Homo sapiens: one gene and its partners. The protein of the gene in region 2 interacts with the protein of the main gene of each other region in a pairwise test. Each region holds a gene or a part of one and is shown on either strand. Other genes may lie near its edges.

What was found.
Region 1: the proteins of NUTM2F (region 2) and RBM47 interact in a two-hybrid assay, tested with the Homo sapiens proteins (one large-scale study listed by BioGRID).
Region 3: the proteins of NUTM2F (region 2) and SH3RF1 interact in a two-hybrid assay, tested with the Homo sapiens proteins (one large-scale study listed by BioGRID).
Region 4: the proteins of NUTM2F (region 2) and ANKS1A interact in a two-hybrid assay, tested with the Homo sapiens proteins (one large-scale study listed by BioGRID).
Region 5: the proteins of NUTM2F (region 2) and OSTF1 interact in a two-hybrid assay, tested with the Homo sapiens proteins (one large-scale study listed by BioGRID).

The regions. Positions count from the first base shown.
Region 1 is NC_000004.12:40,618,359-40,624,229, reverse strand, and holds part of RBM47 (RNA-binding protein 47), read left to right. Parts: intron 1-5,871. UniProt on the Homo sapiens protein: Single-stranded RNA-binding protein that functions in a variety of RNA processes, including alternative splicing, RNA stabilization, and RNA editing. Functions as an enzyme-substrate adapter for the cytidine deaminase APOBEC1.
Region 2 is NC_000009.12:94,322,145-94,328,015, forward strand, and holds part of NUTM2F (NUT family member 2F), read right to left. Parts: intron 3,791-5,871; coding exon 3,094-3,790; intron 1,859-3,093; exon of another isoform or gene 1,598-1,858; intron 186-1,597; coding exon 57-185; intron 1-56.
Region 3 is NC_000004.12:169,095,941-169,101,410, reverse strand, and holds part of SH3RF1 (E3 ubiquitin-protein ligase SH3RF1), read left to right. Parts: intron 1-4,723; coding exon 4,724-4,892; 3' UTR 4,893-5,470. UniProt on the Homo sapiens protein: Has E3 ubiquitin-protein ligase activity. In the absence of an external substrate, it can catalyze self-ubiquitination. Stimulates ubiquitination of potassium channel KCNJ1, enhancing it's dynamin-dependent and clathrin-independent endocytosis.
Region 4 is NC_000006.12:35,085,884-35,091,906, forward strand, and holds the end of ANKS1A (ankyrin repeat and SAM domain-containing protein 1A), read left to right. Parts: coding exon 1-53; intron 54-1,068; coding exon 1,069-1,166; coding exon of another isoform or gene 1,167-1,188; exon of another isoform or gene 1,189-2,716; intron 2,717-2,722; coding exon 2,723-2,726; 3' UTR 2,727-5,523; downstream 5,524-6,023. UniProt on the Homo sapiens protein: Regulator of different signaling pathways. Regulates EPHA8 receptor tyrosine kinase signaling to control cell migration and neurite retraction.
Region 5 is NC_000009.12:75,142,816-75,148,686, forward strand, and holds the end of OSTF1 (osteoclast-stimulating factor 1), read left to right. Parts: intron 1-3,867; coding exon 3,868-3,926; 3' UTR 3,927-4,450; downstream 4,451-5,871.

The DNA of each region.
Region 1 (5,871 bases), on a different chromosome or scaffold from region 2:
AAAACTCTGTGACTCAGTTTCCCCAACTGTAAAATGCCTACCTCACAGGGTTATTATAAGGATTAAATAAATTAATCTGGGCCAGGCTTGGTCACTCACACCGTAATCCCAGCACTTTTGGAGACCAAGGCATGCAGATCACTTGAGCCCAGGAGTTTGAGAACAATCTAGGCAACATGGCAAAACCCCATCTCTACAAAAAATACAAAAATTAGCCAGGCGTGGTGGTACACGCCTGTAATCCCAGCTACCAGGGAGGCTGAGGTGGGAGGATCCCTTGAGATCGGGAGGCGGAGGTAGCAGTGAGCCGAGATTGCGTCACTGCACTCCAGCCTTGACAGGGCAAGACTCCATCTAAAAAACAAACAAACAAACAAACAAACAAACAAGTTTATACCTCTTTGTCTGCTATTTAATATCCTTTAAAAGGCTGAGAGTTGCCAATAAGCAATGATGAGGAGGAAAAAAGTGCATTTTTTCGTAATTAGAAAAAACTTATTAGGTCATTACTAGAAGGAAAAAAGTATGTTTTCTCAAAATTAGGGAGAGTGAAGAGCTGAGCGTGGTGGTTCATGCCTGTGGTCCCAGCTACTTGGGAGGCTGAGGCAGGAGCGTCGCTGGATGACAGGCGCTCAAGGCTTTAGTACGTTATGATTGCGCCTGTGACTAGCCACTGCACTCCAGCCTGGGTAACATAGTGAGATCTCACCTCTAAAAAATACGGAGGGTCAACCAAGAAATCCAAGAGTGAAAGGGCAGTATCAGGTGAATATCAATGAATCACAGCAGTGTGGCTTTTCTGGTGGGCTGACAGTGTACTCTTAGTTACTAAGAAAAGAGATGAGGAAGGACAGGTGGCTGAAGAAGTATTAGAAGAATTGCCTCTAGTGAAATCCTATTTGCAGAGCAAAGAGAAATCCAATAACAAGTTAGCCCTTCCCATTTGGTGCAAACAGTAGTTTGGCCCAGGGACCTCCTTTGCTTTTTGCTCCACATTGTGGGCTCCAGCATCTACCTCAAGGTATATGTCAGTTTGCCAATGAGTAAACAGAAACTGCCAGCTCATATGATACGGACAAGCCCAGCCTGAAACCTAGGAGTCACTTCTCCGGTGGGAACTGCAGGAGGCACACAGACCCTGAAATTAAATGGTAACACCCATGTTCTCATACACCCTGGTCATGTATGAAAGGTCTTGCCCTTTCTCCATTGGCTAGAGCTAGTCACGGAAGGGTGGATACGTCTGCAGAATCTGCTTATCTGCTCCCCTGCTTCCACCTTTGTCCTCACCGCTCTCCCCGCACACTCCTTTCTTAACCCAGTATCCAGAGTGACTCTTTTATTTTTTGAGATGGAGTCTCACTCTGTCACCCAGGCTGGAGTGCAGTGGCACGATCTCAGCTCACTGCAACCTCTGCCTTCCAGGCTCCAGTGATTCTCCTGCCTCAGCCTCCTGAGTAGCTAGGATTACAGACATGCACCACCATGCCTGGCTAATTTTTGTGTTTTTAGTAGAGATGGAGTTTCACCATGTTGGCCAGGCTGGTCTCGAACTCCTGGCCTCAAGCGAGCTGCCTACCTTGGCCTCCTAAAGTGCTGGGATTGCAGGTGTGAGCTACCTCACCTGGCCAGAGTGACTTTTTTAAAACAGAAGTCAGCTCGTGTCAGTCCCCTGCCGAAAACTTTCTAGAGCTTCTCTATCTCACTCAAAAGCCAGTGAATGACTTTATTTCTAGTCCCATCACCTCTTTAACCTCGCCTGCTACCACACACATCCTTACTTCCTCTGCTTTAACCACACTCCTTTTCTTGATGGGGTGTGCCCAGCACATTCATACCACAGGGCCTTTGCACTGGCTGCCCCGATGCCTGAACCATCATCCCCAGACATCTCCATGCTTCACTCCTTCACCTCCTTCAAGTCTTTGCTCTGCCTCCTCCAGGTTAAAACAGCAATTCCTCCTTCCTGCCCGCATCCTCTGTCTCACTACCCTGCTTTCTCTCTGGTATTTATCGCTTTGTAGCATACTATGTAATTGTGTGACCTATTATCTGTCTCTCCCTGACTAGAATGTCTACTTCATTCATTGGTGTATCCCAAGCACATTAGAGGAGCGTCTGCCACAGAGTAGGTGCTCCATAAATACTTGTTGAATAAATGAATAAGACACACAGGCTTTTACACATTTCAAGCGTGACTGAATGCGTTTTACTCGAAATACAACCACGAACATACCTTTCTGAATGAGCATGGGTTTTCTCCCAGACCTCTCCCAGGAGGCTGCCATGTTTTCTGTGGTTTATTTTCTCTGCCACCACAAGTCCTTGATGGAGGCTGATGACTAAGTAACGTGCAAGGCAGGGCCAAATGTGGGGATGTCGCAATCGTTTCAGCACTTCCCCATTTCAGAGCTTCCCTGTTTCCAAATCAAAGCCTCCTCTTTGGCAATCTTTTTGTGATTTACATCTAAATGTGTAGCCCTCTGTTTGAACCATTTTGTGAATCGCATGCCCTACAGATAATTACACTTGACTGACTTATGTTACTATATTGTTTATCACCTTTTCTACTGTCATTTAATTATAATTAATGATTTTCTGAAAGTAACTGTCAAGACAAATTTTCTTAACTATCTCTTTTCACCTTTGAGGTTTCCACAAGTGCCAATTGCTGCTACAGGATTCCATTTAGATTGTTCTCAGCTGCAGAGCTCAATTAGGTATTTTTGTCTTGACCTGGCATGAAACGGAAGTGCTAGAGTCATTGTTTGAGTCTTTAATTTTTCCCCAGAACCTTTGTACAAATACTTGATCTTGCCTTTACAAAGTGGCAAAACAATTCTCTGATCTGTCATGTTTGTTTGCTAGCCCTGGCTTCGTTCTCTCCTTTGGACAATTACCTAGGTTTGGCAAAATTGCTTTTCGTGGCCTTTGGAGGCACAGTTCCCTCTCTGCGTTCATTTGCCTTGTTTAGATCCATAATTCACTGAAAAAGGCTTCCTCAGTTGCTGTTAGAATCCTGTGGCTACTAGGCTTGGGGACCCTAAAACCATCTTGAAGGTAGTACAGACTCCAGGAAGGTTCTTTGCAGTAAAAAAAAGGCAATAGTACATAAAGTCTGCTGAGGGTAGATGAAGAGCCTGGATTTAGTTATTTCTGACTATTGTCAGTCATGGTTTGTGGCTGATTTAGAATTATTTGGATTTTGGGTTTTTTTTTTTTGTTTGTTTCCTTCTAAATTGATTTGGAAGACATCATCACAATTTGTTGAGGAGTTCAAAAAATACACAGACAAATTATGCCTAATAAACAAAGAGCTAATGTTCATAGTTCTTTCTGCAAATCATCTTATTTCTTATCATATGCACTGAATGGGACATTAGAAATGAATAGGGGGGCCGGGTGCAGTGGCTCACGCCTGTAATCCCAGCACTTTGGGAGACTGAGGTGGGTGGATTGCTTGAGCCCAGGAGTTAAAAAGCAGCCTGGGCAACATGGCGAAAACCCTTCTCTATTAAAAAAAATTTTTTAAAGAAAAGAAAAAATGAATAGCATATAAATGTTAAATTAGACTTGTCTTTGGTAATATACTATATAGAGGGAGCTGGTGGTAATTATTTACTAAAATATAGAACCAGTAAATATGAATTAAATGGGTTTATAAACTAGACACATTGAAAGGACTTATTTTTCTTGCCCAGATACAGACTTTTTGTTTTTTTTTGAGATGGAGTCTTGCTGTTATCGCCCAGGCTGGAGTGCCATGGCATGATCTCGGCTCACTGCAACCTCCACCTCCCAGGCTCAAGCCATTCTCCTGCCTCAGCCTCCTGGCTAGCTGGGATTACAGGCGCCTGCCACCATGCCTGGCTAATTTTTGTATTTTTAGTAGAAACGGGTTTCACCATGTTGGCCAGGCTGGTCTCGAACTCCTGACCTCGTGATCCGCCCGCCTTGACCTCCCAAAGTGCTGGGATTACAGGTGTGAGCCACTGTGCCCGGCCCAGAGTTTTTTTTTTTTTTTTTTTTTTTTTCATACTGAGTCTCACTCTATCGCCCAGGCTGGAGTGCAATGGTGTGATCTTGGCTCACTGCAAACTCCGCCTCCCTGGTTTAAGCGATTCTCCTGCCTCAGCCTCCCGAGTAGCTGGATTACAGGCATGAGCTATGAGGCCTGGCAAATTTTTGTATTTTTGGTAGAGACAGGGTTTCACCGTGTTGGCCAGGCTGGACTCAAACTCCTGATCTCAAGTGATCCGCGGCCTCGGCCTCCCGAAGTGTTGGGATTACAGGCGTGAGACACCGTGTTTGGCCTAGATACAGACTTAACTGCTGTTTGAGCAGCTACTGTGTGCTGGACACTGGATACGAAGTACCCAGTGGTGAATAAAGATTCTCCGCCCTCTGGGACTTTCTTTGTTGGGTGGAGATGAGATTTAGTGTTCTGAAGGAACCAGGAACCCACAGGTACTACACAATAGTAGGTGGGAATCCCATAGGTGAGGTCATCAGAGAAGGCTCCTCCAGGGAGGTGGGGCTGAAGGTGTTTGATGGGCAGGGAGATGTCCATCTTCGCTAGATGGAGTAGCGTTCATGAAGGTCCTAAGGCTGGGAACGCTTGGCATGTTGAGGGACTTAAAGAAGGCCGACCTTGCAACAGTGCAAAGTGCCCAGCAAGGAGGAGATGGGCACAAGGTAGGGTTATGGGGATTACTGAGACTCAGAGCATGTGGGTCACTAAAGACCATGGAAAAGAGTTTGCATTTTGTTACTCCAGGCCTAAGAGAAAGCCATTAAAGACGACTTCTTAAAAGACAACCCTGACCCAGGCTGGAGTGCAGTGGTGCAATCATGGCTCACTGCAGTCTTAAAGTCTTGGGCTCAAGTGATCCTCCTGCCTCAGCCTCCCAAGAAGCTGGGACTACAGGCACACAATCATACTCAGCTAATTCTTTGATTTTTTTGTAGAGACAGGGTCTCACTCTTTTGCCCAGGCCGGTCTTGAATTTCTGGGCTCAAATAATCCATCCATCTTGGCCTCCCAAAATGTTGACATTACAGGTGTGAGCCACTGCGCCTGTCCAGGGGTTGATTTTTGGGGGTGTTGGTGTTGGTGGAGAGAGCCAGTGGCCTGCATGGGATGTCTTCTGTGTATCTACCTGCCTCTGTTATGGTCTGAGTCTGAGGCCGGCAGTGGCCAGCAGAAATAGCAAGATGTGGTGATGGCCTGGAGGAAGGACTGAGGATGGGGGGTTCTGATCTGTGTTGCTGGCTGTGATGGCAGAGACTGGGGGAAAACAAGTTTGAGGCAGGTAGAGGAGATCAGGAGTTCAATTTTGGGTGTGTTTACTGAGATTCCTGTTCAAACATCCCAAGGAGATGCTGGAAGTTTCCCTTTTTTTTTTTTTTTTTTTTTTTTTTGAGATGGAGTCTCGCTCTGTTGCCTAGGCTGGAGTGCAGTGGCTTGATCATGGCTGACTGCAACCTCTACCTCCCAGGTTCAAGCAACTTTCCTGCCTCAGCCTCCCGAGTAGCTGGGATTACAGGCGCGCGCCACCATGCCTGGCTTATTTTTGTATTTTTAGTAGAGACGGGGTTTCACCATGTTGGTCAGGCTGGTCTCGACCTCCTGACCTCGTGATCTGCCCACCTCGGCCTTCCAAAGTGCTGGAATTACAGGTGTGAGCCACTACCCCCAGCTAGAAGTTTCCCCCTTTTATATCCAGTGCCTCTAGCAAAAGCAGGAGACACCTCTAGTGCCTAGCATTCATTTTTCGGAAAAGTATTTCTTATTTTATTTTATTTTTAGAGACAAGGTGCCACTCTGTCACCAGACTGCAGTGCAGTGGCGTGACATTGCTCACTGTAAAA
Region 2 (5,871 bases):
CTGTCATTCACTCTCACCCCGCCACACGGGCCCTGCCCCCAGGACCCCAGACTCACTTTTCCGCCATCTCGTAGAAGATCATCCGGTCAAAGTTGCTCGTGTGCTGCCATTCCCGCATGGCCTGCCACAGTCCCTCCTCCAGCGTCATGGTGGGCTTCCGCCGGGCCAGGGATCGGAGAACTGGGCTGTAAACCAGTGCAGTCAGTCCCAGTCTGTAAGCCCACCCTCCATCCCGGGCCCACCTGGTCCCAACACCTGGCTCCTGTCCTCCCCACACCTGTCCTGCCATCTGTCCCTGTCCTGTTCTCCCCCATGTGGGCTCCTCAGCCTCCAGGACACACCCCCAAGATCCAACATCAATAGAAGCCACTGAGTGGCCTCTCCGACTGCCTCTCAAGTCCTCGGTGTTATGATGTTGACAAGCGAACTCAGTGCTATGGGTGGAACATGTGTGTCCCCAACATTCCTGTGCTGAAGCCCTCAGTGTCAGTGTGTCAGTATTTGGAGGCAATCAGGGTTAGAGCAGGTCATGAGCGTGGGTCCCAGTCATGGAATCCGAGCTCTGATAAGGGCAGGAGGAGACACCAGGGCTCTTGCTCTCAGCCACAAGAGCACACAGCCAGAGGCAGCTCTCTCCAGCCAGGAAGAGGGCCCTGACCAGACACCCAATCCGCTGTCACCTTGATCTGGGACTTCTGGCCTCTGGAACTAGGAGACATGAATGTGTCTTGATAAAGCACCCAGTCTATGGGATTCGTTACGGCAGAGCCTGAGCTGACTGAGACACCATGCACACAGAATGACCTGGGAGCGAGGGTTAAAGTGCAGGTTCCTGGGCCACAGGACTGAGCATTTAACCAGCTTCCTGGGGACTCTGGAGCAAGGCAGCCCCTGGGGACACAGCCTCAGGGTCCTGGAGCTTGAGGAGCAGGAGCACACGTCCAGAACCAAAGCAGAGCGGTGTCCAAGCCACTGCAAGCAGCCAGGCACAGCTTCCCACATTCCCACAGGAGCCAAGGCAAAGGCCTGTGAGCCCGGGGCGGCTACACTCCAAGAATCAGGGTCCCCAGTGCACCGGGACTCCGCTCCAAGGGGGGATGCAACCAGTTCCAGGGTGTGGGGGCAGCGAGACTGTTGGGGAGGAAGACGGGGCCGCCTTCACCTACACCCCAGGCAGGGGACTCCCCTAGGGGAATGGCCAGTGTGTTGCACGGTGGATATGCTCAAGCTCCTGTTTGCTCATCAGCGGGAAACACAGGGTCACAGAGGTGCCGCGGGGTGGAGAGAGGCAGGGACTGGGAATGAAACCACAAACTCTCCCAGATGCTGATGTTGCTGCCTCACAGTCACCACAGTCCACGGCTCTGGGCTGCTGGGCTCGTGGTGCACTCAGAGCTATCACTGGAGCCCGTGGCTTTGGGGAGCACTCTCCTAGATGGCCTAGTCCTGATAATGGTAGTAATGGGGACAGTAATCATAACTGCTGTCATGTAATGTGTCATAGTATGTGCCAGGCACTGTGCTACGTATGTCATATGTGAGCTCAGGTCATCTCTTTGCCATCCTCTGAATGAAACACCATTGTCCTTTTTTCTAGGGGGGATTGACGGTGAAGATGCTAATACCTGCCCAGCATCGACCCTAGTGCGGGTCCCAAGACCATCCCCCTGTGCAGGCTCCACCACCGCTGTGCTAACTGGACCGCGGCAGAACAGTGTGGGTGTGTGCCAGGTTCCTGCTGGGCCCTGCAGCTCCTCCCCCCAGCCCCATGTGATGTGCCCCTGGCCATTGACACTCAGTTCGAGGGAAGGCACTGGGGTGTACACTCAAAGACCTAAACCCAGGGTGGGTGCGGTGGCTCACGCCTGCAATCCTAGCACTTTGGGAGGCTGAGGCGGGTGGATCACAAAGTCAGGAGTTCAAGACCAGCCTGCTCAACATAGTGAAACCCCGTCTCTACTAAAAAATACAAAAAATTAGCTGGGCATGGTGGCGGGCGCCTGTAAGCCCAGGTACTTGGGAGGCTGAGGCAGGAGAATCGCTTGAACCTAGGAGGCAGAGGTTGCGGTGAGCCAAGATCTCACCATTGCACTCCAGCCTGGGTGACAGTGCGAGACTCCATCTCAAACAAACAAACAAAAAAGACCTAAACCCTAACCGTGGCTCATGTCACACCAAGAACGCTCTCTGACCTGGGTCTTCTGTAAACATTGTTGTGAAAATTATTGAAAGTGAAAGCCAGGCACGGTGGCTCATGCCTGCAATCGCAGCACTTTGGGAGGCCGAGGCGGGCGAATCACCAGGGCAGGAGATTGAGAGCATCCTGGCTAACATGGTGAAACCCCGTCTCTACTAAAAATACAAAAAAATTAGCCGGGCATGGTGGTGGGCACCTGTAGTCCCAGCTACTCGGGAGCCTGAGGCAGGAGAATGACGTGAACCTGGGAGGTAGAGCTTGCAGTGAGCCAAGATCGCGCCACTGCACTCCAGCCTGGGCGACAGAGTGAGACTCCATCTCAAAAAAAAAAAAAAAAGAAAAGAAAAGAAAAGAAAGTAAGTATTGGGGCGGGGCATGATGGCTCATGCCTGTAATCTCAGCACTTTGAGAGGCTGAGGCGGGCAGATCACCTGAGGTCGGGAGTTCAAGACCAGCCTGACCAACATGGAGAAACCCCATCTCTACGAATACAAAATTGGCCAGGCATGGTGGCACATGCCTGTAATCCCAACTACTCAGGAAGCTGAGGCAGCAGAATCACTTGAACCCGGGAGGCGGAGGTTGTGATGAGCTGAGATCGCGCCATTGCACTCCAGCCTGGGCAACAAGAGTGAAAGTCCATCTCAAAAAAAAAAAAAAAATTAAGGATTGGCTGGACTCACGGGACAGTGACAGGCAGTTGACGTGAGGCCCCTGACAGTCTGTCCTGAGCCGCAGCCAGATTAATGTTGCTGAAAACGTACCTTCCCATAGCACAACCCATCACCCTCACAACCGCCCTGCAAGCTCCCCTGAACAGTGTGACCTCCTGTCCATCCAGCAGCCTCTTTATGAGTGAGCTGCAGGACAAGCTCCGGCGCCCCGAGGACACTCACATGAGGAAGCAGGAAAGCGCTTCAGTGTCAGGACTCTGGGGAAGGTGCCTCCGGGCCAGGGGCTTGTAGTGCTGCCAGAGTCGGAAGTTCTCATAGACACTCTTGGGTTTACAGGAGTCGTCCGGCCGGGCCTTGGCCTGGGAGGGAGCCAGGCTGCCCTCTCCATGAGCCCCTTGTGGCCATGGCCTAGCGTTCCCTGGGGACACGATGGGGGCCACCTGGGCAGCCGGTGGTGGTGGTGGAAGAGGAAGGCCATGGGACCAGCCTCCCTCACAGGCCTGGGTGCCCCCAACCACCTGGGCAGAGGTAACGGGCACCCCAGGAGCAGCTGCCAGGAGTAGGGGAGGTGGACACATGACACCTCCACAGAGGGTGCCTGGAGCCTGCCAGACGAGGGGGGCCTGAGTTAGGATCAAGGTCTGTGCCTGAGGGGGCTTCACAGGCCCCACTTCTGTCCTCATCTGGACAAAGACGTTGGAAGCCCCGGCCCCACTCGGGCCGCGGCCATCCTGTCCTGCCACTAGAGGGGTGCTGGGGAAGGCAGAGAGCACCAGAGGGCCGGCTGGAGGAACCACTGCAGTCACGAGGGGCGGCCTGTGTGCTGGGCCGGGAGCGGGTGTGGCAAAGGGCAGAGCCGTGAACACAGACAGGGAGGTGCCAGGGTTCACGGTCACGCCGGGTCCCAGCACTGGGTATGCTGTGGAGACAAAGGAAAGAGGTGAATGAGCTGGCGTCTCCAGGTCCACACTAGTCACTGGGGAATCAGGGGAGTCCCAACAGCTGAGGGCATGTGACAGGGAAACTCTGCAGCTTGCAAGTGTCCCTGAGTGTGCATCAGATGCTCTGTTCCTCCACGGCAGAGTCGCTCCACTAGAGAGCCTGGCGCCAGTCACCAAGACTCCCTGACCCTTGTCTGCCAAGAAGAAACAGCCAAGCCTTTGCTGTCTCTGAGGGTCTCCCTCGGGTGTCCCTGGCAGACTGCACCAGCCTCACAGGCATCTCCCAAGCCATGGGTCAGGGATGAGTCTCTCGGTGGCTTGGTGGCTCTCAGTGTGCTCAGCAGCAGGTGAGGGGCCTACCCCAGGGCAGTGCTCGGCATTCAGAAGGCCGACAGGAAACCAGAAGTTTCCGAATATTATGGCCCCATCTCCTCTTCAGTCTTCCTTTCCCTGAAGCTCTTGTAAACCCCTTTCTTTCCTAGCTCAACACAACAAAAGAAAACCACTGGATAGGCCGGGCGTGCTGGTTCATGCCTGTCATCCCAGCGCTTTGGGAGGCCCAGGCGGGTGGATCACCTGAGGTCAGGAGTTGAAGACCAGTCTGGCCAACGTGGTGAAACCCCGTCTCTACTAAAATACAAAAATTAGCTGATGGTGCGTGCCTGTAATCCCAGCTACTCAGGAGGCTGAGACAGGAGAATTGCTTGAACCGAGGAGGCAGAGGCTGCAGTGAGCCGAGATCGTGCCACTTCATTCCAGCCCGGGTGACAGAGCGAGACTCCGTCTCAAAAAAAAAAAAAAAAAAAAAAAAGAAAACCACTGGATGGAAACTCACCCAAGCCAGTGCCCTAGGAACCCTGAAGATAACCCATAACACATCACGCCCAGCATGCAAGTGATTGTCCTGGCACCACCCACACAAGTGTTAAATAGGGGTCAGATTCAGGCCACCCATTCCTCAGTGCTCAGTGGTCCCAGCTGCCACTCAGGAAGCTCAGTTCCCAGGGAGCAGATCTGAGAAGCAGTGGTGGAGTCCCCTGAGATATTGTCATTGTGTAGCCAGCAACAGCTGCACATGACTAGAACACAGCCAGCAAATGGTGAGCAGCAGGGCTATCAGGGGAGGTGTCTAGGGATTTTCTTTTTTTTCTTTTTTTTTTTTTTTGAGACGGAGTCTCGCTCTGTCACCCAGGCTGGAGTGCAGTGGTGCGATCTCAGCTCACTGCAACCTCTGCCTCCCAGGTTCAAGCACTTCTCCTGCCTCAGCCTCCTGAGTAGCTGGGATTACAGGCGCCCGCCACCATGCCCAGCCAATTTTTGTATTTTTAGTAGAGACGGGGTTTCACCATATTGGTCAGGCTGGTCTTGAACTCCTGACCTCGTGATCCACATGCCTTGGTCTCCCAAAGTGCTGGGATTACAGGCGTGAGCCACCGCGCCCGGCCAGGGATTTTCACAGCTGCTAGTCATGTTACACTAAATAGTGGGACAGGGAGCCCATCTCTGGTCCTTCTCCTTTGAGCTCCCAGTAACTGAACATAGGGACCAACGAAGAACCAGGGGTTCTTGGGCCACAGGCCAGGTGAGGCAGAGTTGTCTGGAACTCATCCCTGTTCACTAGGACCTCATGCAGTCTCTAGCCAAGGGGAATAAGGGATACAGCACATGCACCTCATCAGTCAGGACACACATCCTAGTTTGAATAATAATAATAATAGGACTGTCTTCCTATTTGTGCGCTACTCTCCTTCCTCTACTGAAAAGGAAACCAGCCTTTTCAGAGCCTTCCACTGAGAACCAGCAAGAATCCACACCTGTCGCCCGTTCATGAGGTAGTATAAATGGAACAGGAGCAAATTCTTCACCTCCACAGTAACACAAAGTACAGAGGACGGGCCATGAGCTAGCTGACGAGAGGAAGTGGGTCTGAAGACCTGAGCTTCCACCAAAGGGCAAACAATTCAGAACAACTCAGGAAACCCAGGCCCTGTGTTGCCTGAACTTCCCCATTCTGCCCCCACCCCTGTTAAATCAAAGCCAACAGCTACCTGAACTGACG
Region 3 (5,470 bases), on a different chromosome or scaffold from region 2:
GACTTCTGGGCATCTCATAAGTGGAATCATGCAATAGTCTTCCTTCTGTGTGCATGCAGCTTATTTCACTTAGCATAACGTTTGCAAGGTTCATCCCTGTTGTAGCACGTGTCAGAATTTCATTCCTTTTTAAGGAGCTTTGTACATTTTAAAAAACAGTTTTTCTATACAACTAGGCTTTTTCTTTTTGCCACTTGACATGCTTATTAAGAATTAAAGGTACTATGCTAAGTCCTATGAGGCATATAAAGTGAATTTAGCATCATCTCATCCTTCAAGCAGCTTATGGTTTGGTAGAATAAACGAGACGGACACAGATGGTAATAATACATTGTAGACTGTGCTAAGTGCTGTAAGACATATACATGGAGGCCTCTGCGATTTAGTCAAGCATGAAATTGCCTCCAGCCATGGGGCTGGAGATTTCACAGGGGAGAACTGGAGCCAGGCTTTGAGAGAGTGATAGGGTATGGGTGGGAGAGATAGCGTCAAAGGAGACTCCCACTAGAAGGAACTGCATGAGCCAAGGTGTGGCGTGGGGGAAGTAAAGGCCCTGAATAGGGGACATGTTCAGGCTTAGGGGAGTGTTTGGGACTTTTGTGGTGATAGTAGTAGCTACAGCTGTGTAAAAAGAGATTAGGGCCTGATCACCAAGGGCTTCGCATACCAGGCTGAGGATTAACCTTGCTCACAGGCATTGTAAAGCTGTTAATGATTTTTTGGCAGTGGGTAGCTGCAAATAGAGTTGCCACTTAAGAATATTAGTATGTGAGCTCTGCATAGACTGGGTTGGGGACAGGAAGAGACTTGAAGGAGGCCAAGGTGGGTGGATCACCAGGTCAGGAGTTAGAGACCAGCCTGGCCAATATATTGAAACCCTGTCTCTATTGAAAATACAAAAATTAGTCGGGCATGATGGCACACACCTGTAATCCCAGCTACTCAGGAGGCTGAGGCAGGAAAATTGCTTGAACCCAGGAGGCGGAGTTTGTGGTGAGCTGAGATCGTGCCATTGCACTCTAGCCTGGGTGACAAGAGCGAAACTCAGTCTTAAAAAAAAAAGATATTTGACGAGGTGGAAGGTAATGAAGTCATCAACCAGGATAGTGACAGTGACAATGAAGAGGAGTGGATGGGATGCAGATTTTGAAGGTAGATCAGCAGGTCCCATGTAGGTCATGGGAGAGTATTCATTGACCCCTGAGGTTCAGAACTTCCCCAAACCCCTGTTCATATAAAGAAAAGCATAATCCGAGTGAGGCAGAGGGTGGAGCAGCAGATGTAAAGGGCCTCTGCAGCTGTGCCTTACATCTGTTTGTTGGTCTGTAAATGTTCTACTTGGCAAAGCCTTTCAATGCCTGAAATAGTTGGCCAGTTATGCCCAGTATTTGGCCTTACAAATCTGTATTAGAAAACTGCAAACCACCTCACAAGGCTCAAGATCAGGACCTGAGCTGGAAGATTTCTAAGTAGAGTCTATTACTCCTGCACCTGGTAGTCTTCATACGATCAAGACTGTGTCACAGTTTCCATTATGCACATAGTTTCTCATTCCACCCGCCCCCCCAGAGGTTTATAAAACTTAGCAATGAAAATTTGCTCCCACTGGGAACTTGGCAGGAAGAGTATGTTCTTAGCCCAGCAGCAGTTCTAGTTCAAAATTTTTTTTTGACAAAATTGGTTTAGTGCATTTTATAAAATGCATATATTAATCTAATTCACTTCAAGTTTTTCAATAACCATTTTTATTCCATTTCACCTTTAAGGCAGCTCACAGAGAACAAGTAGGGAATATATCTCATGAGAAGTCTACTCTGAATATGTTTTGAGTCACTTGTACATTTTTTCCCAGAATTATAAAGCTTTGCCTTAAATGTTTAACTTGCCCCACATGGCAACTACATCATTGCTTTTTCATGGATTTTTAGCATGTTGACATTAGACTTGAGAAATGTCATCTGGATCCTTCTTTCAGATAAATTCATGATGAAATTATTTGTCTTGCTTTTAAAGGTGTCAGAGAGCTGGGCATAGCGGCTTATGTCTATAATCCCAGCACTTTCTGGGGCTGAGGCTGGAAGATTGCTTGAGCCAAGGAGTTCAAGACCAGCCTGGGCAATATAGTGAGATGCCATCCCTACAAAAAGTAAAAAGATTAACCAGGTTTGGTGGCACACACCTGTAGTCCCAGCCGGAAGGCTGAGGTAGGAAGATCAGTTAAGCCTGGGAGGTCAAGGCTACAGTGAGCTGTGATTGCATCACTGCACACCAGCCTGGGCAACAAAGTAAGACCGTCTCAAAATAAAGATATCAAAGAAGGGATTCCAAAACCCTAACTGTGTTGATCTAAAGTTTGTCAAATCTCATTTTCAGGAAATGAGGCCTGAGTTGTGGCCTGAGTTCGTTTCCTAGTTAGAGATGTCCAGCCACTGACTGGCCCATTCTTCACCTCCTTGAAGTGCCAGGCCTCTGCCTACTCTTGTCTAAGCCATATGATCATAATGGGAGCTAATATTTTCAGGTTGAACTCTTTGTCAGACACCATACGAAGAGCATCATACTTGTTTAACTCATTACAGTCCTATTCTACAGATGAGGAAACAGACTGAGAGCTGAGATAACTGGCCCAAAGTTAAGCTGCTCTAACTGACCTTAAAGACTGTGTCAATCCTTAGGCCAGTGTTTCTCCCGCTGTGTCATGCTTCCTTCCTCATTCCATGCTTGATCAAACCCCAGCCTTGTGGTCTATGAATATTCATGTTTGAATTAGCTGAACCTTTCTCAGATATGATAAGCCAACTTCTGTGCTGTGCTTTTGCTTCAGATCTTGGGTAGTAATTTGGTCCCTGTGCCAAAGGAGCTCAGGTTGTTCAAGCAGCCACTTACCTTTTGCAGAGATGTGTTTTTTTAGTGTAATAGTCTGGGACTCTTGCTGTGGTCTTTCTTAAATGGATTTTGGTTTATATGGAATGGGAATTGGTGAAAGGGGCAGGCTGTAATAGGTTTCAGAAGTTTGGGGACAGTTGTATAGAATTTGTTCTGCCTATCATTTTGAAGCCATAATATTTTTCACTTTCAGTCAGGAGTGGGTCCCACGAGGCTATACACTCATTTTCTGACTTTGAGAACCAAATGAAAGTAGAAACCCAAAATCAACTTTATGACTGACTACTCATTACTTAGCATCAAACAGTGAAAGATGTATTTATTAGATATCTGTTGCCATGTAACCAGTTACGCCCAAAAGTCAGTGGCTTAAAACAATAATAAGCATGTATTATTTCACACTTTCTGTGGGTCACATAATTATGGAACAGCTCATCTGGTTGGTTCTGGCTTAGAGTATTTCTTGAGATTGTAGTCAAGACATCAGCCTGAGCTGATGCTCAACTGGGGCTGGAGGATCCCCTTCTAAGATGGCTTATTCACATCACTTTTTCTGGTTAGTTTAGGCTTTTGGAAAGAGGCCTCAGTGCCTTACCATGTGTTTCCTCTCCATAGAGATGTTGAGTGTCCTCACAACATGGCAGCCAGTTTTCCTGAGTGACCGATCCAAGAGAAAGTAAAGTGGAAGCCATAATGCCTTTTATGATCTAGCCTCAGAAATCACCCACTGTCATTTCTGCAACATTTTATTGGCCACACAGGTCATCCTGTGCATCATAGGAGGAGACTACACAAGAGTGTGAATACCAGGAAGCAAGGATCACTAGGGCCATCTTGGAGGTTGGCTACCATACACCACCATTCTTTTCCCCCCTTTTGTTGAGAAGAGGAGTAATGCAAATAATGCTGGAAAAATAGAGAAAGATAAAAGGATATAGAGTGTAAAACAAGTCACCTCCCTCTCGTTTCCTACAAGCTGTAATTCTGCACAGGAAGGCTAAGGAGCATGGAGGCAGGGGCACAGATAATATTAAACCAACTAAGCTTCTGCCATTTTTAAGCGATAATGACACCTTTCCCACTAACTCCAAATTCTGAGCCAAGGAGAAACAGACCCAAATGTCAGAATAATAGAGATGAGAATGTCAACCTCGTTACTGGTAATGTTGGATTGAACTTGTGGCCATAGCCCTCCCCTCCATGTCTGGACCTTGGGACTACCTTCCCAAGGGATAATCTGGGTATGTGGGGCAGATTACCTTCCTCAGAATTGCTGCCTCGCCCATGTCAAACACCAGTGTAAGGGACGTAGGGACACAGAGACAGACTTCCAGACTCACCTTCCTGACCTCTGTGTGCTTACAACATAGAGGTGGAGCAGAGCCTCCTTAGCCTGTGGGCAGGCGGTTCAGAGAGGACTGAACCCCCCCTGCTCAGCTACTTCTCCCAGTCTCACCAATCAAATAAATTCACTCCTGTTTCCTTGGAGAAGAGGGAGGGATAGAAATGATACCCCTCTCGGGAAATGAAATGAAACTCTCCTTTATGGCCAAGATACAAACACTGGTAGGGAACAAGGATGGCTGTCCTTGTTAAGGTCACTCAGATGAACCAGTCTGGGCCATCAGTAGTGGGTTGACACACATATCCAAATCCAGTCTTTGTTAGTACTAAGTCTCTACTAAACAGAAAATAGCAGTATTTTGAGTTGTTTTACAATCATAAATGAATTAATGTTATTTCCTATTTATGTTGAAGGTTCGTGCAGACTAACAGTACACCATTTTTTAAAATCACTGCTTTGAATCGCCTTAACCAAAATCTCTTTCTTTTCTAGGCACAGGGTGGTGGTTTCCTATCCTCCTCAGAGTGAGGCAGAACTTGAACTTAAAGAAGGAGATATTGTGTTTGTTCATAAAAAACGAGAGGATGGCTGGTTCAAAGGCACATTACAACGTAATGGGAAAACTGGCCTTTTCCCAGGAAGCTTTGTGGAAAACATATGAGGAGACTGACACTGAAGAAGCTTAAAATCACTTCACACAACAAAGTAGCACAAAGCAGTTTAACAGAAAGAGCACATTTGTGGACTTCCAGATGGTCAGGAGATGAGCAAAGGATTGGTATGTGACTCTGATGCCCCAGCACAGTTACCCCAGCGAGCAGAATGAAGAAGATGTTTGTGTGGGTTTTGTTAGTCTGGATTCGGATGTATAAGGTGTGCCTTGTACTGTCTGATTTACTACACAGAGAAACTTTTTTTTTTTTTTAAGATATATGACTAAAATGGACAATTGTTTACAAGGCTTAACTAATTTATTTGCTTTTTTAAACTTGAACTTTTCGTATAATAGATACGTTCTTTGGATTATGATTTTAAGAAATTATTAATTTATGAAATGATAGGTAAGGAGAAGCTGGATTATCTCCTGTTGAGAGCAAGAGATTCGTTTTGACATAGAGTGAATGCATTTTCCCCTCTCCTCCTCCCTGCTACCATTATATTTTGGGGTTATGTTTTGCTTCTTTAAGATAGAAATCCCAGTTCTCTAATTTGGTTTTCTTCTTTGGGAAACCAAACATA
Region 4 (6,023 bases), on a different chromosome or scaffold from region 2:
CAAAATCTTCCAAACCGGTGCCTAAGCCTCGGGTCGGCGTGAGGAAATCCGCAGTACGTGGGCCCCACTGGCCAAGATCCCCCTCTCCCTGGCCCCAGGGATTCAAGGGCTCAGGGTGGTCAGCGTGAGGAGGGTCTTCTGGCACTTCCAGAAAGCTGGCCCTCCAGGGAAATGACCCTCTTAATTGTCCCCCAACCCTGCCAGGTCTCGCCCCTGGAAAGGCAGCAGCTCCTCTGGCCTGGGCGGGCCTCTCATGCTCCTGTTTCCCTCCCTCGCTGGGCTCCCCCAAGGGCAAGGCCGTCAAGGGGCTGCAGAGAGCGGCCTGCAGGCAGCCCCCAGTAACTGCGCCATCCCTGTGTCTGTGTCTGCTTTGCTCTGCACCCCAGGTGCCGCTGCCCCCCGATAGTCGCTGTTGTTACTGTCACACCTGCACCACCCACCGTCCTTCCTACCTACCGCTGCCATCTGTTAGTCCTGGAGTCAAGGTCTTTACGCCTCCTGCTGTCTTGTGTGTCAGTCTCCCCGAAGTGACCGTGAGCGCTCTTAGCCTCTGGCGGCCTCTCCCTCTGCCTGTGTGACATTCTTTCCCCTCTTCCTGAGATGCCCTCTGCCTGTTCTGTGTGTGCTTCAGCCCTCTCTGTTTTTCTGTTGTGTGTCCTCTCTCCAGAGGTCTGGGGTGACTGCTGTGGTCTTGCCTTGGGGTGAGCTCTCTGGGCCTACCAGAGAGACCCGAGGCTGGACATTTGCAAGCCCCATATCCCCTTCCTGCCCAGTGTGAGTGGGTCTGGGGCTTAGAGCAGGAGGCCCGCCTAGGACAGGGGTCCTTTAACTGAGCAATCCCAAGAAATCCCGGAGAGAAGCTGTGCCTGGAGGTGGCCCTCCCCAAGATGCTCCAGGAGGGTGTCCCTCCTCCGCCTGCCCCCAGGGGCCTGCTCTTTGGCCGAGGAGAATAAGGGCTGCCCCTCCCAGCACAGGGGCCACAGCCTGGCCTGGGGGTGGGAGGGGCCTGCTGCCTCCAGCCCTGGCACAGAGCTCCCTCTGACTCTTGACTGCTTCCTTGTTTGGCAGCTGGAACCACCTGATATGGACCAAGATGCCCAATCCCATGCCAGTGTCTCCTGGGTTGTGGACCCCAAACCAGACTCTAAGCGGAGCCTCAGCACCAAGTATGAGACCACTATCTTCTAAAACAACCCACTCCCTGTCTCCACTAGTCTCACTGTGCCTTTGCCATCCGATCTTTCTGCTGTCCTCAACTCTCTCCTTCCAGCTGCTGATGCCAAGGCCCCACCTGCACTGGGACCTGCTCCTCTTGGGCGGGCGGCAGCGTAGACGCTGTACACTTGCAGCTCTCGCACCTACCACCACCGAACACTGTGAATTCTCCCCCTTGGGCTGAGGACAGCTTGAGGGGGTGAGTTGCCTTTGAGGTGGGCATCAAGAGGGCTCAGGGGTTCTGTTGCACCCTGGAAGCCTCCACGGGCAGGCACTGTGAACCCCGACGGGCAGGGCAGTCTCCAGCAGGATCCCAACGGCACTGATAGCTCCCCAGGGTTGGGCTGGGCTCTGTGTGGCTCCCTCCTCCTGTCTGCTGTACTGAGCCACAGCTGGGCACCGTTGCCAAGAGCTAGCTGACTGTTCTCACCTCTCCTGAACCAACCAACCACTGTGACCACCCAGTGCCAGAGTCCCCAGCACTCTGCTCACAGCCGGCCTGCAGCCCCACCCCACTGTCCTCCGCTACTCCGAGGTGCTGGCCTCACTCTCATGGCTAGGCCCTTGTGAGACCTTGAGCTCAGTGATGTGGCTGGACCAGGGACAGACTGCTTTCTGTGAGGGCCCAAGATATGCGCCAGGCCCTTGGGTCCGTGCTGACTGCCCCACTTGGGGCTCTGGGTATCTGAACACTCACAGGCTGGCTCACACAGCAGGTGTCTCAGTCCTGATGGGCCTTCCCCTCCAAGGAGGTGGGTGGCATGTGTGTGGACAGCCCCTCTATCTTCGCCATGGAGTCTCAAGGCCTGGCAGCCTTGGGCCTGGCTCTGGAGTCTAGCTCACTGAGGAGGAAGGCCTTCCGTAGAACCAACGAGGAGGCGGCCTGTGCCCTGCACACACGGCGCACCTTCTTCCCTCACAGAACAGAGCTGCTGGAGGACAGGGACCTGGACCAAGTGGCCTCCATTGTCCTCTGGGAGCTTTCTGACACTCTCCACGGTGGGGGATCACAGATAGACAGCGCCGTCCAGCATGCCCCTGACCACCTCCCTCAGCCTCCTGACTCCTCCGAAAGGAGAGGCCGTCCCATCGCAGCAGCTCAGAAGCTGGGATGGTGGAGCTGAGTCTTTGAAGAGGCACCCCATTCTCCAGTGTGGGCAAATCAGTTTGGATGGCAGGAGACAGGAAGGAAGCGGCGCCCATAGGCAGCCGTGCACACATAGCAGAGTCCACTAGGAAAGCCAGTCGGCCAGGGCAGTCAAAACCCAAGTCGATAAACTGGGTGGGTCCTGCGTACCCACCCATCCTTGTGCCTTCCTGAGCAGAGTCACTGAGCCAGAGGCAGTGGGGGCTGCAGGCTGTGGGTGCTCAAAGCAGGCATGGAGGGTGCCCCGGGGAGGCTGTGAGGGATCGTCTGTCCTGCTCTGTGTTTCCTTTCCATTTCCTCCACCGTCCGCAGGCCCCATTGGTTAACCCTTTCCTCCCCCCATTGTTTGCTTCTGCCAAGCTGAGCCACTGAGGAACCACACTGTGCTGCGGAAACATAGACGTGGGGGCATAGGCTCCCACTGCCACCACCGCCATCGCCTCACCTGCAGCTCTGAAGACCCAGGCCTCACCTCCGCCTGCAGGACCTCCTCTTGGCCACTTGGCCTGGGCCTGCCACCACCACGTCCTGCAGAACGAGCCCTGCCTTGGCTGTGGAGAAGCACTCCAGGCCGCTAGCAGATGGGACTGGCATTCCAGAGGGTCAAGAAGTGACTTGTTCAGAACACATTGTTTTTAACAGAAAAAAAATCTTTTTATAAAATGAACTTTTAACACTTGGCTCAAACCTCTAGGTCATACTGCCAATCTTTAGACAAATGGCCATGGGGCAGAGGACAGGGGAGCTGAGGTTGGTTCAGAGGCCAGCCTGCATAGCCTCTGTCCTCAGGACGGAACTTGGGTGCAGCTCAGTGGGTCGGAAGAGAAGGCGGTGGCCTGTGGGTGAGGGGAACGGAGCAGGCTCAGGCAGAATTGAGTACGGTGCGTCTGCTTTTCAAACCCAACCATATCAGCTGCTGCTCTTTATGAACTGCCCAACTTCCTGTCCCTTTCAGGGGCTAGACACAGGCTTCTCGTAAGAACACAGCCTTAGAGGCACCTGAGCAACTCAAAGGTTTCCGGTCCATTTCTGGGGTTCCCGATGGGAAGGTTCAGTGGCCAAATGAAGATAAGTGTGCAGTTTCTAGTGCTGGGAAGTCTTAGCCAGCACCAGAGCGCCAGGCCTCTCCCTGGCCTCTTACCTGTCAGTGATCGGAGCACTGCCCTGGGCTGGCCGGCGCCGTACTGCCTGCGTTGTGTCAGAGAATAGGAAAAGCAGCTTTGTTTGGGGCATTAATGCTTGGAGTGGGGTCAGCTAAGGTTGCTACTTGCCAATTTGTGATTTGTCTAATCAGCCTGTGTGATTGGGGCTCATTTTGATTCTCTGAATTATCGGTTTGACGGTTACACTTGGCTGCTGGGCCCATCCCTGGCCCCCGGTGTGGAAAAGGCTAAATAAGGTGACAGTGCATCGATGCTCCCCCGCGTGGCCTTTGGGGCAGGCTGGCATCCCGGTGCGCCTCTGCTTCTTAAGCTTTCCTGCTGCTCGCTTTGTTTTTAAAAGTAACTTGGGTTGCATTCTTCCCTCTGGACTAGAGTAGAAATGCAGGGGAAACTGCTGTGGATTTGAGAGGCAAAGTTGGCTCAGCTGTGTGCCCAGTTCCTCCTGTGGGCACTTTAGCAGGCTCCGAGCTTTCCTGGCATAGGTCAATCAGGTCCCAGGATGAATAATCCAGGCTTCAGCAACACTCCTCTTTCCCAGCCAGCAAAGGCTGTGAATTTGAATTCTTTGTTGGTATGTATGTGCAGGGAGTACTGTTAGGCACATTCTTAACCCATGTGGTTGGCCAGAAATCAGAAGTGGGGCTGTGTCTCTGACTGGCTAGAGGCCAGGCCTTGTGGGTTTCTATCTGCTAAGCACCCAGCAGGTTGGGGCCTGGGACTCAGCTCTCTCTGCGGTAGAGGCAGGCCCTCCTCCACTTCTTGGTACTAAACGAAGATCTCGACACCTTGCAGTTTTACTTCATTTCCTGCCCCTTTCAGGGCCTGTGAGGATGCCCATGAGCTACCGCTGTACAGTTCTCGGCCCCGGCTTTCTTCCAAGAGTTGACCAGGAACCCTAAAGCATCCAGAGTAGACTGCGCTGCCACTGCGCACATGCTGGTGCCCGTCTTCCTCCTAAGGGGCCAGGCCACATCCAAGTGGGCCTCTGTCGGGGGCGGGGCGGTAGGTCCGAAAGAAACCGCAGACACTACGATGCACTCCTCAAGCTGTCTTTTGTGCTTAGATCATCCATAGGTGTTTCTTCTGCTTGAAGCTGCTATATCATCTTTATTTATTCAGGGTATTTTCATATTGGAAGCCTTGGCTAGTCTGCTCTAGCTCTGGGTTCTGTTTAGAGATTGGTTTATTTCTGAATATTCAAGAAAGGAAAATGACTGGGCCTTTCTTTCTTTTCTTCTCCTCTGGGATGGGTAGTCTCCCTTTCCTAGAAAGGTTATTATAACTTTAAGGACAGGCTTCAAGTGGGAAGGCCCCTACTTTTGCACTTCTCCAAGTGCAGGTCACACCAGGGGCAGACCCTGTCGCTGCGTTTCTGAACTGTGAAGGAGCCCATTCGGGTGGGAGACTTCAGATGGGCTCAGTACCTGTCCCAGCCACAGGCTTCTTGTCCACCTCTTCTCCCCTGCCCACCAGCTGCTCAGCGCATAAGACCTTCCCGACAGGCTCTGCGTGTGCAGCTCTCTGCGTCCCTCCTGGGCCCTCCAGCGTCAGACACTAATGGGAGTTCCCGAGATGCTCGGGTTTGAGCAGGGAGCAGGCAGAGCTGCAGTCAGAGACATTAGAAAACCAGTCTGAATTGGGTCTGTCTTTGAGATGCCCAGGCCAGCAGAAAGCAGCTCAGAAGTATTGTTGCTCATGGTGTGGCAATGGACTGAACTGTAATGAAAATGTTATTTAATCTTTGTCTCTGTATTTTGATACTTGAATGACTTTCCCTTTTGTTTTACTGTATATAAAATTGTTAATCTGTCTGATTTTGTCTGAATTATAAACACTTTGAGGTACCAAACATAACCAATCTGTGCAACAACATAGACTGACCTCAGTACCCAAGAGAGTGTAAATATTTCTGGGCTTCCAGCTTTGGTTTTGTTATTTTCATAACTGTACACAACTTAGAACAGACTGAATTAATAAATGAGAAGCGACATGAACGCAGCCTTAATTCTTCTGAGTCTTTGAATTGGAAAGCGTCTTGATGGTTTTCTGGCAGAGGCGTGGGCACAGGCGAGACGCAGGCTCAGGATCAGTGATTCGCATCCTACACCGTTTGGCTGAGATGACGACAGCTTGGCTGTTTGGCTTTCTGTCTCGCACTCTCTAACAAACAGTTAGTTACAGCTGTGCTGTGAGGCGCAAGGGCCCCAGGATTCACCTTCCCCTCCTTAGGAACATCGTTCTGTGAACACCAAGCCAGGGCCACATTCTAGTTACTGCTGCAGTGGCATCTCTTCTGCCTCTTGGTCTGGGCTTGTCCACCCATAGACATGAACCGAACATCTGCCTCCCAGGCAGCCTGGGGGATCTAGAGCTGTGAAAGAAAGTGCTCTCCTTTCAGGAACTTGCTTGGATTGCAGAGGTTAAGTTTTAGACATAAACAACTAGCTACCAGCCCGAAGCCGTGCTATGGTAGGGATGCAGAGGGCAAAGTGTTCCCA
Region 5 (5,871 bases), about 19 Mb from region 2:
TTCCCCAATTATACAGTTAATTTGTATTGTGATCCTCATTGGAATAGGTTTGGACTATTTGGCCATAGAGTTAATTGTCAGCATGAACTCTAAGTTGGAAAAGGTATATTCTGATATTGTTGTCCACTTTTTTTTTTTTTTTGAGACAGAGTCTCACTCTGTTGCCCAGGCTGGAGTGAAGTGACACAATCTCAGTTCACTGCAACCTCCGCCTCCCGGGCTCAAGTGATTCTCCTGCCTCAGCCTCCTGAGTAGCTGGGATTACAGGCATGAGCCACGATGCCCGGCTAATTTTTGTATTTTTATCAGAGATGGGGTTTCACCTTTTTTGTCCAGGCTGGTCTCGAACTCCTGACCTCAAGCGATCTGCCTGCCTTGGCCTCCCAAGGTAGTTGTTGTCTACTTTTAGAAGCACAATGTGGATTTTTTAATAAGTACAAAAATTCACATTTTGCAGTTACTATGGAAGATAACTAGGATATAGGGCTGGGGGTTATACTCGAGTTGAGCCCTTTAACATTTTTTTCCAACTTTTAAAAATTTGTGTATAATTTACATTAAGTAAGTACATAAATCTTAAGCATACAGCTTGATTAATTTTTTTTACACCTGTTCACCACAACCCAGATGAAGCTAGAGAACAGTTCCCACACGCCACATGCCTCCCTCAGTGTCTTCTGCTTCTCTCACCATAGATTAGTTCTGCCCGTTCGTGAACTTTATGTAAATGGAATCAAACAGTATGTACTTTTTGTGACTGACCTCTTTCATTTACATTATGTCTGTGAGAGTCATCCATATGCCTGTGTTTATTTCTCCATCATTTATTTATTGTTTGTATGTTTGTTGGTTGGTTTTAAGTGCTGGTTCTTGATTTGAGATATGTAAAGCCAGGGTGATGGGACTGAGGTAAAATGAACGTGAGCTAGGGAAGGATGGCAGTGCTGCAGGAAGATACATTCCTATGCGTGCTATGCCCAGAGGTGGGCTGTGAAGAGATACAGGCTCATCACACAACACCTGACCATGTGGGAAAACTGCCTCAGAACAGTTCATGAAAGGAAAGAAGGAGAAGGAATTTATTTGCTGACTTGTGCCTGTCTTTTGATGACCACTCAGTCAGAGTCTGCACTGTGGCAAATCATCCTCTCTTTTTAATAGAAGTAAGAATAAAATAAAGAGCAGAAGTAACCATCCAAGGACACAGAATATGGGCAAAACTTAGGATAGTGGAGTAGAAGGGGACAGAGTTTTCCTATTTGTCTCTCAGGCTTTAGCTTAGAAAGCTACATTTTACCAAGTTGACATGAAGTCCTGAAGGTCCTGGGTGTGTGTTGGGGGAGAACAAAATATATTCCTCCCACTTCTTGTGAACTCCTCTTGAGGAGAGTGGAGAAGAATAGAGTCAACCTGGAGACTTCCAGTAGCTTGAAGGCTGGTGTGAAGTCAGTGAAACATGGCCAGGTGTGGCGGCTCACACCTGTAATCCCAGCACTTTGGGAGGCAGGGAGGATTGCTTGCATCTGGGAGTTCAAGACTAGCCTGGACAACATAGTGAGATGACGTCTTTACAAAAAAAATTAAAAACTAGCTGAGTGTGGTGCTGCATGCCTGTAGTCTTAGCTACTTGGGAGGCTGAGGTGGGAGGATCACTTGAGTCCAGAAAGTCAAGGCTGCAGTGAGCCATGATTGTACCACTGCACTGCAGCCTGGGTGACAGAATGAGATCCAGAAAAGAGACTTGGCCTCTGTTCTGCTTTATCTTTCCTTCTCTCTCTTGCAAGATAAATCGGCTTCCACCTCCCTTGTACTGATCATCCCTTCTTCTTTTCTTTTTCTCAATAATCATTTTCCAAAACATGTAAACATGAAAACTTTTTTTTTTAAAAGAGCATTAGCATACCTAAAAAATAATTCCTTAATATTCCTTAATATCATCAAATATCTTGTCCTTGTCCAAACTTCCATTTTCTCATACATCTTTGTTTTTACTTATTTATTTACTTATGGTTTATTTAAGTCAGGATTCACATAAGGTCAGTTTGTGATTGGTAGATATGTCTCTTTATTTATTTTTTAAGCAATAGTTCCTTTCCCTCTCTTCTTCCCCCTTTTTAACCTTGCAATTTATTTATTAAAGAAACTGGGTCAACTCACTTGAATTTCCCATTGTGGACATTGCTAACTGCATTCCCATGGTGTTATTTGTCATGTTCCTCTGTCCTTTATGTTTTTGTCAATTAGTGTTAGATTTAGAGGTTTGATCCAATTTAGGTTCATTCTATCAATCAATCAATCATGAATCAATCATGTATCTGCCTGCCTATCTATCTATCTATCTATCTACCTATCTATCTATCTAATCTATCTATCGGTTTGATCTAATTTAGGTTCTATCCATCTACTTACCTACCTACCTACTTACCTACCTACCTAGCTATGTATCAAATCTAGCTAGCTAGCCAGAGGTTTGATCCAATTTAGGTTCAATCTATCCATCTCTTCACCTACCTACCTATCTACCTACCTACCTAATCATGTATCTTTCTTGGTAGTAGAAGGAATAATAAATCATATAGAATATTGTGTTCTTTTATCAGGGGCACATGATACCTGGTTGTCACTCTTCCTGTGATGTGACATCCATTGATGATCGTTGCCTAGATCTGTTACTTCACTAAACGGCACAAAATGATGATATTCTAATTAAATCACTTCTTTTTGAGTTATTAGCTGGAACATTCTATTAGGAAAAGTTTTCCCTCATCAATTGTTTTGTTACGCAGAGGAACAGTTAATGTAGCAAGGGCAGGATAAATGCTTGATTTTTGACCTTTATTTAAGAGGTTTTAAAATAATAAGCTGGTCTCTGTCATCCTCCAAAGGGTGACAGATGAGTTCTTTTTGGTGTGCCTTGAAATATTTAATGTGCTTTAATCCATTCCAATTAGTAGCTTTATCAATAGCCCATCTTTGGCTAGTGGAGGCCTCTTTAAGTTGAATCTCAGACCCTTTCACGTGATGCTGTCTTTGTTAGGATGCTTGCTTTATGACATGACTAGGGTTCTAGGTCCATCCCTTACACTTCCTGCCCCATACTTGGAACCGGTCATATGTATAATAAGCTTCAGAGATGTGATACTTAGAGATCATGAAGATCTGGGTGCTGTGACATATATTTATTGAACTTCAACAATGTGCTTGTGTTTGCATTCTGTTTTTCCCACTAAAATTATACTTGGGCTAATCTGTTGCTATAGGAATTTGACTAGACAGTTGAAGGGGTGACTGTGAAAGATCAGATGTCTTCCTTTTGAGTCCTGTTCAAGTTTGCTTGAACATTTGATGGGGTCCAGCTCTATTTTAAAACTTTTCCCCCCCATTTCAGCCTTTTGCTTTATTGTCGGTGTTTTCTACATTGAAATGGAAGCTTCTTTGTTTTCATTCTTTCTTTTCCTTTTTCCCCTTCGGTAGTTAACGTCCTACCTAGTGACTTTGCCTTTAGGCAAGACCTCAGGCTGTCACTGGGAGAGGAGGTTGGAAGCTCAGTTGTCAGAGTGGAGTGCTGCTGGTGGTGTATCATGTTGGTCATGGTGCCTGTGGCTAGGCCTTTCTGTTGGAAATGGATGCATGGCACCTAGGACCAAAACTTCTGCATGACTGTGGAACGCATCATCAGCCTCTGTGGCAACAGAAACTTAATGGTTAGGCTGAAAAGCAAAAGCAGAGAAAGATCCTCAGGGAAAGTACAATCCCTGGGTCAGATGGAAGATTCTATTCTAATTTAAGAGCTTTGAAAATGAAAAAATAAAATCTGAGCAGTTTATAATTTCCCTATTTTGCTTTTTTCCCTCCTCTTTCTTTCAGATGCAGTTCGAACATTAAGCAATGCCGAGGACTATCTCGATGATGAAGACTCAGATTAATTCCTTTCTGGAGCTTTGAGATCTAAAACTTCTGTTGCTTTTGCCATTCCAAAACTTTGTCTTTGCCAGAAAAGTGTTGGTAACTATAAAGAAAATTATATATGAACACGGCAGTGTTGCACTGTGTTTGAGTAGAACGTGTAAATGAATTGTTCCCACCTTTGGTTTGCCAGTAAGTGACTGGATTCTTGGCACATTTATGTTCACCAAAGTAGAACAAGAAGATATTATTTCTATTTATCAAGCAAAAGGAATTTTAAGATTTTTTTTTTTCTTTAAAAACAAATTAGGATTTTTTTTTTTTTTTTTTTTTTAGTTAAAATGCTTTACCTCAATGGTTGAGATATTTTGAATGGATTTTTCAAGGGGGGGAAATGCTTATTATAATAATAAACCAAAATACTTAACAGAAAATTGTCAGCTATTCTGACAAAAATAAACATTTTGAGAGACTTTATTTCTTTTGTCCGTTTCTGTGGTATCACTCATTGTCGTTAAGTAAGTAAAGCTTTTTATATTTAGGTAAGAACTGATTTTATTTTTTAAATTATATTTTATATTTATTAGCACAGAAGAATAATGAGAGCCACATTTTAGTTCAACTTCTTGTGTTAGCTTTGATCAAAGTCAGGACAATAATCATTGAGAAGGTGCATGTCTAATAAAATAGGTAAATTTAATAATTGTGAGACTTCCAGTTTTTATCTCCAAGGTTGTATTTAGAGTGGAGAAACCCAACAACTCATTACAGTTTCGCTAAGATTTGAAAGGTTAAAAAAATTTATTTCCTTATGATAGATGCCATACTTTTCCATATGGAGTAGTCAGGAACCATGAAATTTTTTGCATTCAGTTTTTTTAATAACATTTGTTTTCTCACAGTATGGATCTAGTTCATAATGATTCAGATTCTTTTGCTGAAACACAATTAGCATTGCAGGGAGCCTTCTGTACTACTGACATGACACTTCATTTGGCGTTCTAATTTTGTATCACTACAGTGATGATGTAAAAATGACATGGCCATTGGAATTTGCCTAGAATCCCGGCCCTAGGTCCAAAAGTATATTTTGCAAGATGATTTCAATGCTAATTTCAAAAAACACGTTGATGAAGAGAAGGAAATGTATGAAGAAGGAAGTGGGTTAGCTCAGGAAATGAATAACTGCCTCTATAAGAGTTTATTCTGTGACTGTTTGGTTTTTCACTCTGTGGGAGCCTTGAGAAACGATACCCAGAGAAGCCCATTTGAGGTCTTTCAAACACCCTCAACTAAATTTTAGTAGAAGAGAATCTGTACCACTAGTGACAACAAAGTATGAACACAAATTCTGGCACCAACAAAAGAGGGCATTTTATTCTTAAAATAAATACGTTATTAAATTTGATTTAACCAGTTGTATTTCTTCTTAAACATAAACTTGAAGATATGAAATTCTTCCTGAAATTGTATCTATTCCTATAGATCCTTTAAGATTTTTCTTTAAAATGGGGCTTGTTTCTTAACAAAAAGCTTTTAGAGAACCCTGTAACTTTTTGTTCTTCTATACTTTGGGCTGGGGTAATTAGGATGGATTTCAACTAAAGACTCTTAATTTTTAAAACATGGGCAGAAATAATACAGCTTGTGTGGCTATAGACAATTTTTATCAAAATACCATGTACTTGCTTTAGATATATTATTTGTATATCTGAGGGAAAGAATAGTGGAGGTCTCACTATCATTGTTTTTAACATTATCAAACTTAAGAGAATTTTAGAAAGTTGGACAACTATAGTTTTTTTTTGAAGATGAGGAGAGTGCTTAGCTATGTGCATGAATTTTTGGTAAAACAGGACAACTCATTTAGTTGTGGCTGAAACTCCACTGGAAATTTTTTTGGTTTGTTTCTTGTTTATTCAGCCTGGCTAATCTGAGCTTTCTCAGAGATTGTTTAGTGCTGAA